Linked DNA regions of Homo sapiens. Changing the gene in region 1 together with any one later gene gives a genetic interaction. Each region holds a gene or a part of one and is shown on either strand. Other genes may lie near its edges.

The links. A genetic interaction does not mean that the proteins touch.
Region 2: of MAP1LC3B (region 1) and HDAC1, a change in one rescues a mutant of the other (synthetic rescue), as found in Homo sapiens cells (one study listed by BioGRID).

What each region holds. Positions count from the first base shown.
Region 1 is NC_000016.10:87,398,836-87,402,335, forward strand, and holds part of MAP1LC3B (microtubule-associated protein 1 light chain 3 beta), read left to right. Parts: coding exon 1-35; intron 36-3,339; coding exon 3,340-3,446; intron 3,447-3,500.
Region 2 is NC_000001.11:32,323,083-32,326,582, forward strand, and holds part of HDAC1 (histone deacetylase 1), read left to right. Parts: intron 1-1,396; coding exon 1,397-1,471; intron 1,472-3,500. UniProt on the Homo sapiens protein: Histone deacetylase that catalyzes the deacetylation of lysine residues on the N-terminal part of the core histones (H2A, H2B, H3 and H4).

The DNA of each region.
Region 1 (3,500 bases):
GACTTATTCGAGAGCAGCATCCAACCAAAATCCCGGTAGGTAGTCTCAGGCCTCGGTTTCAGTCATGAATGTACGCAGAGGAGAGCACCGCATAAGTGCATCCACTTGACGGGTTTTTACAGGAATCACCAGACAGCCAAACCCTGGGTGTCAGTTTCACAACCTAGAGAGAGGTATCCTTTTTTTAAGAGACAGGGTCTCACTCTCTTTCCCAGGCTGGAGTGCAGTGGTGCGATCGTAGCTCAGTGCAGTCTCAGCCACCTTGTGCTCAAGCAGTCCTCCCTCCTCAGCCTCCTGAGTAGCTCTGACTAGAGGCACACACCACTACACCTGGCTAATTTTTTAAGTTTTTTGTAGAGACAGGGTCTTGCTATGTTTAACAACCCAGGCTGATCTCAAACTCCTGGGCTCAAATGATCCTCCACCTTGACCTCTCAAAGTGTTGGGATTATAGGCATGAGCCACTGGCTGGCCTCAGGTGCCAAGATTTCTGTACTGCCTCTAATTTCTGCTACCACTTAAACTCAGGCAGGTGGAGCCTACACACTGATATTTCCTTGTGGATATCACACTTCAGAACGTGTCCGCTAGATAAAGCTCTCAAACTTACCAAGGAAAGTGATGACAGCTTGACTCGGCCTTACACAGAACCCTATGTAGGTCTCACACAATAGAACAATGTACAAATAAGCATTTTTCTTTCCCAAAGAAGCATGTAAAGATTTCCCATTCCTGCCACTCAACTTCTCTTTGTTGTGACAGGGTGGAAGAATTACTGTATATAGAAAAGATGTCCGCAGCGTTCAGTAAACACAGACACTAATGAGACTCAGAGGCTCATCTGTGGTCAGGTATTATAACAGCTTAAAACTAAAAAAAAACAAAATATTTTGCTCCATGGAAAGGAAGCATAGTGAGGAGCCAATGGATTATTTATTTATTTATTTATTTATTTTGAGACGGAGTCTTGCTGTGTCGCCCAGGCTGGAGTGTAGTGGCGCGATCTCGGCTCACTGCAACCTCCGCCTCCCAGGTTCAAGTGATTCTCCTGCCTCAGCCTCCTGAATAGCTGGGACTACAGGCACGTGCCACTACGCCCAGCTAATTTTTGTATTTTTAGTAGAGACAGGGTTTCACCATGTTGGCCAGGATGGTCTTGATCTCTTGACCTCATGATCCGCCCACCTCGGCCTCCCAAAGTGCTGGGATTACAGGCGTGAGTCACCACGCCGGCCTGATGGCTTTATTTAAATTCATAATATGAAACTATATGTGTTCCCTGTGTAGTTCAAATACGTGTGTGTGTGTGTGTGTGTGTGTGTGTGTGTGTGTGTGTGTATAAAATTTTTTTTTTTTTTTTGAGATGCAGTCTCGCTCTGTCACCCAGGCTGGAGTGCAGTGGCGTGATCTCGGCTCACTGCAAGCTCCACCTCCCGGGTTCACGCCATTCTCCTGCCTCAGCCTCCTGAGTAGCTGGGACTGCAGGCGCCCACCACCATGCGCGGCTAATTTTTTTTGTATTTTTAGTAGAGACGGGGTTTCACCATGTTAGCCAGGATGGTCTCAGTCTCCTGACCTCATGATCTGCCTGCCTTGGCCTCCCAAAATGCTGGGATTACAGGCGTGAGCCACCGCACCTGGCCTCAAATATTTGTATTTTTAACCTCATTTAAAGAAATATGTTATCAGAATGAAAGTACCAGGTCATTATGCACAAAACTTTGTCTCTAGAACCAGCTAATAATGGACTCTACTTGCCTTGTCAAATATAATTTTTTCATGTCAACTAGACAGTCTCTAGTGTGGAAAAACATTGAGCATATTACTATAATTAGGAACTTACACATTTATTAAAACACAGGCATTTACTTTTTTTTTTTTTTTAATGGATGAAAGGTTTTTATGTTTCCCAGGTGGGCCTGGAACGCATAGCCTCACCTCCTTATGCACCAGAACAACCAGCCTGAGTCACCGTGGCTCCCAAAACACATGCATTTACTTTCATTAGAACTTCAGCTGGCCGGACGCGGTGGCTCACGCCTGTATCCCAGCACTTTGGAAGGCCGAGGCGGGTGGATCACGAAGTCAGGGGTTCGAGACCAGCCTGACCAACATGGTGAAACCCCATCTCTACTAAAAATACAAAAATTAGCTGGGCGTGGTGGCGGGTGCCTGTAATCCCAGCTACTCAGGAGGCTGAGGCAGGAGAATTGCTTGAACCCGGGAGTCGGAGGTTGCAGTGAGCCAAGATCGTGCCACTGCATTCCAGCCTGGGCGACAGAGCAAGACTCTGTCTCAAAAAAAAAAAAAAAAAAAAAAAACTTCAGCCATGTCTCAGGATATGGTAGTTTTGGAATTGAGAGTTTCAGATGTTTTGTGCTTGAAGCTGGTTCCCAGCCTCTCTGCCTCGGTAAGGCTTGAGGTCTTTTTCTGACTAGGTATGTATTTTTCATGGTTCCAAAACTGAAACAGAATGAAAGGATACATAGCCAAGTATCTTCCCCCACTTCCTACCTGACGGCAGACATATTGTCTCTCTTGTACTATATTTTGTAAGGGGTAGATGTCTAAGCTAGCAAATGATCACTCTTCACAGGAGAGCTATGAGGAAACTAGTGAATGTGCTGTTTCAAAGCCCATTTTGGCATGTGCCAGTTAGACTGTAGGAGGCATTTTGTATATTTTTAATTGTTGATGACTATTTTATTTATTTATTGGAGACAGTCTAGCTCTATGCCCTAGGCTGGAGTGCAGTGGCGCAACCTCAGCTCACTGCAACCTCCGCCTCCTAGGTTCAAGCTTGTCTCAGCCTCCCGAGTAGCTGGAAGGCATTACAGGCACCTGCCACCACACCTGGATAATTTTTGTATTTTTAGTAGAGTCGGGGTTTTGCCATGTTGACCAGGCTGGTCTCGAACTCCTGACCTCAGGTGATCTGCTGGCCTCACCCTCCCAAAGTGCTGGGATTACAGGCATGTGCCACCATGCCCAGCCTGATGACTTTTTTTTTTTTTTGAGATGGAGTCTCGCTCTGTCACCCAGGCTGGAGTGCGGTGGCGCGATCTCGGCTCACTGCAAGCTCCACCTCCCGGGTTCACGCCATTCTCCTGCCTCAGCCTCCTGAGTAGCTGGGACTACAGGCGCCCGCCACCATGCCCGGCTAATTTTTTTTTGTATTTTTAGTAGAGATGGGGTTTCACCATGTTAGCCAGGGTGGTCTCAGTCTCCTGACCTCGTGATGTGCCCGCCTCGGCCTCCCAAAATGCTGGGGTTACAGGTGTGAGCCACCGCGCCTGGCCCTGATGACTATTTTAAAATCACTTCTGGCTTCTTTTCCAGGTGATAATAGAACGATACAAGGGTGAGAAGCAGCTTCCTGTTCTGGATAAAACAAAGTTCCTTGTACCTGACCATGTCAACATGAGTGAGCTCATCAAGATAATTAGGTATTCAGTCACCTTTGTTTCATAATATATTTCCTTTGAGTAACTTCTTATTCT
Region 2 (3,500 bases), on another chromosome or scaffold:
ACAGGGTCAGGAGTTTGAGACCAGCCTGGCCAACATGGTGAAACCCCGTCTCTACTAAGAATGCGGAAATCAGCCAGGTGTGGTGGCAGGTACCTGTAATCCCAGCTACTCGGGAGGCTGAGGCAGGAGAATGGCTTGAAACTGGAGGGCAGAGATTACAGTGAGCCAAGATCACTTCACTATACTCCAGCCTGGGCAACAAGAGCAAAACTCCGTCTCAAAAAAAAAACAGACAAACCAAAGCTTGAGGCTTGCATACTGCTTCTGCCATTTACTAACAGCTCACCTCTCTGAACCTGTTTCCCTACTTATTTATTTATTTATTTTTTTGAGACAGGGTCTCACTCTTGTCTCGCCCAGGCTGGAGTGCAGTTGCGCGATCTCAGCTCACTGCAACCTCTGCCTCCCGGGTTCAAGTGGTTCTTGTGCCTCAGCCTCCCAAGTAGCCGGGATTACAGGCAGCTGCCACCACACCTGGCTAATTTTTATGTTTTTGGTAGAGATGGGGTTTCTCCATGTTGCCCAGGCTGGTCTTGAACTCCTGGCCTCAAGTGGTCCTCCTGCCTTAGCCTCCCGAAGTGCTGGGATTACAGGTGTGAGCCACTGTGCCAGGCCTTGTTTCCCTACTTATAAGATGGGACCAAATCTTACCTCAGAAGCTTGTGTGAAGATGAATGATCTCGGGTATTTAACGCATGTAGCGCAGTGTCTGGCGTGTTGTACGTGCGCAGTGAACGATAGTTCTCTGGGTCTCTGTTCTTGCCCCTTGTTTGTCAGCTGGCGTGAGGGCCAGAGGATAAGTTTTTCTCCCTCAAGAAACGAACCAACATTTTCCAAGTTGCTAACTGCTTCTCCATATTAGATTTTTGTTAATTTTCTGACCAGTGGGTGAGGTGGGATATCAGTTTTGCTTGTTATAGATAATGGGCTAAGACCAGGTGTGATGGCACATGCCTATTGGGAGGCCAAGGCAAGAAGACTGCATGAGGCCTAGGGAACATAGTGAGGCTCTGTCTCTAAAAAAAAAAAAAAGAAAAAAAAATTAGCTGGGTATAGTGGCATGCACCTGTAGTCCAAAGTACTTGGGAGACTGAGGTGGAAGGATTGCTTGAGCCCAGGAGGTGAGGGTCAAAGCTGCTGCACATGAGCCATGTTTGTGCCACTGCACTCCAGCATGGGCAACAGAGCAAGCCCCTGGCTCTAAAAAATAAAAAAATAATAATGGGCTAAAGCTCAAAGATGTTAAACAACTTGATGCAGTCATACAGCCAGGAAGTAGAGCCTGGACTAGAACCCACACCTCCTGAATTTAAATTCTGTGTTTTTTTCCATCAGCTCATAAATATGTAAACTAAAGGAAATTGTGGAAACTAACCTTTTGCTTATTTCTTTCAAGTCAACGTTGGTGAGGACTGTCCAGTATTCGATGGCCTGTTTGAGTTCTGTCAGTTGTCTACTGGTGGTTCTGTGGGTAAGGAATATTCATCTTCTCCCCAGGGGTAGACTGGGTTGTTCTAGTGAGGTCTGCCTTTTAGGCTGCTATCCTAGTTGGCTGATCTGAAACCATGTAGAATGGTCCTGTGGTTTTTACTGAAGTCTCTAAAATGGCTGGTGTAGTGTCTCACACCTGTAATCCCAGCACTTTGAGAGGCTGAGGAGGAGGATTGCTTGAGGTCAGGAGTTCAAGACCAGCCCAGGCAACATAGACCCTCCTGTCTATAAAAAAATAAAATAAGTAAAAACAATTAGCCGGGCATGGTGACTCGTGCCTGTAGTCCCAGCTACTCAGGAGGCTGAGGCTTAAACCCAGTAGGTTGAGGCTGCAGTGAGTCGTGGTCACACCACTACACTCTAGCCTGGGCAACAAAGCAAGACCCTGCCTCCAAAAAAAAAATTTAAAAAGCCTCTAAAATGTCCCTCTGGTTCAGTCCCAGCCCAGGTTCAATCTCTGACATGGTACTGACAGGTGTCCTTGACTGTCCTTTCCTACTAAGAGATCTTATGTACAGGCGTTCCCCGCAGACCTCCTGGGGTTGTTAAGATGCTGTACGTAAAAGCAATTTGTGAACTGCAAAGTGCTATAAAAATGGAAGTGTCATCATCTGTGAATCTGTCCTATGAAAAAGTATGGTAATTACCTTTAGAGGTCAGAAATACTCCTCATGTATCTCCCACTTCCATTTGCAACTTTTGGGTTATCTCCAGGATTACTCTAAACGCTTTCTTAACAAATATTTATTTTCCTGTGATCCCCCACCAATATAATCATTGTGTCCATCCCCGCTGCCCCACCAATATAATCACAGAAAACAAAGAAGTGCACAGAAAAAAACACAATCACCCACAGTCACAGGGTTGGTGGATAACCTCTGTTACCATGTTGGTGTTTGTATGGCCATTCTTTTGTGTGTGTGTTTATATCTGTGTCACACATATACAACATCTATATTTTACAAAAGTGGGTTATATACATATCACATATATATGGTTTTATGCCTGCATTTCCTACTTAACGAAATTGTCTGTAGTTTTCTACAGCTTGCTTTCTTGTGGCTCTATGATTATTCCATGTTGTGGATTTACTTGAGTTGATATAATCTGTCCCTCTTCTTGATAATTTGGATCAATCTATGCTTTTATTGCTGTTAAAATCAACACTGCAGCTGGACACGGTGGCACATGCCTGTAATCTCAGCACTTTGGGAGGCTGAAGAGGGTGGATCACCTGAGGTCAGGAGTTTGAGACCAGCCTGACCAACATGGTGAAACCCCATCTATACTAAAAAATACAAAAATTAGCCGGGCGTGGTGGTGTGTGCCTGTAATCCCAGCTACTTGGGAGGCTGAGGCAGGAGAATTGCTTGAACCTGGGAGGCGGAGGTTGCAGTGAGCCGAGATCGCGCCACTGCACTTCAGCCTGGGTGACAGAGTGAGACTCCATCTCAAAAAACAACAACAAATTAACACTGCCACAAATGCACTTGCACACATGGGTGTGTATTTATCTTTTACTTCTTCTGGGACCTATTCGTGCTAGTGCTTTTTGACCTAGTGTATCAGCACTATCTTTGGTAATTTTTCTTTTTCTTTTTTTTTGAAATAGAGTCTCCCTCCATCACCCAGGCTGGAGTGCAGTGGCGTGATCTTGGCTCACTGCAACCTCCGCCTCCTGGGTTCAAGCGATTCTCCTGCCTCAGCCTCCCCAGGTAGCTGGGACTACAAGTGTATGTCACCACGCCCAGCTAAATTTTTTCGTATTTTTAATAGAGATGAGGTTTAACCATGTTGGCCAGGCTGGTATCGAACTCTTGACCTCAGGTGATGTGCCCGCCTTGGCCTCCCAAACTTCTGGGATTACAGGTGTGAGCCACCGCGCATGGCCTATCTTTGGTATTTTTTCAAAGTTCCTTGACCATGAGCCATAGTAAGAAATAAATTTACACATGCAATCCAGGATACATATAACATATGCATGCATGCACACACTCACTCACTCTGAA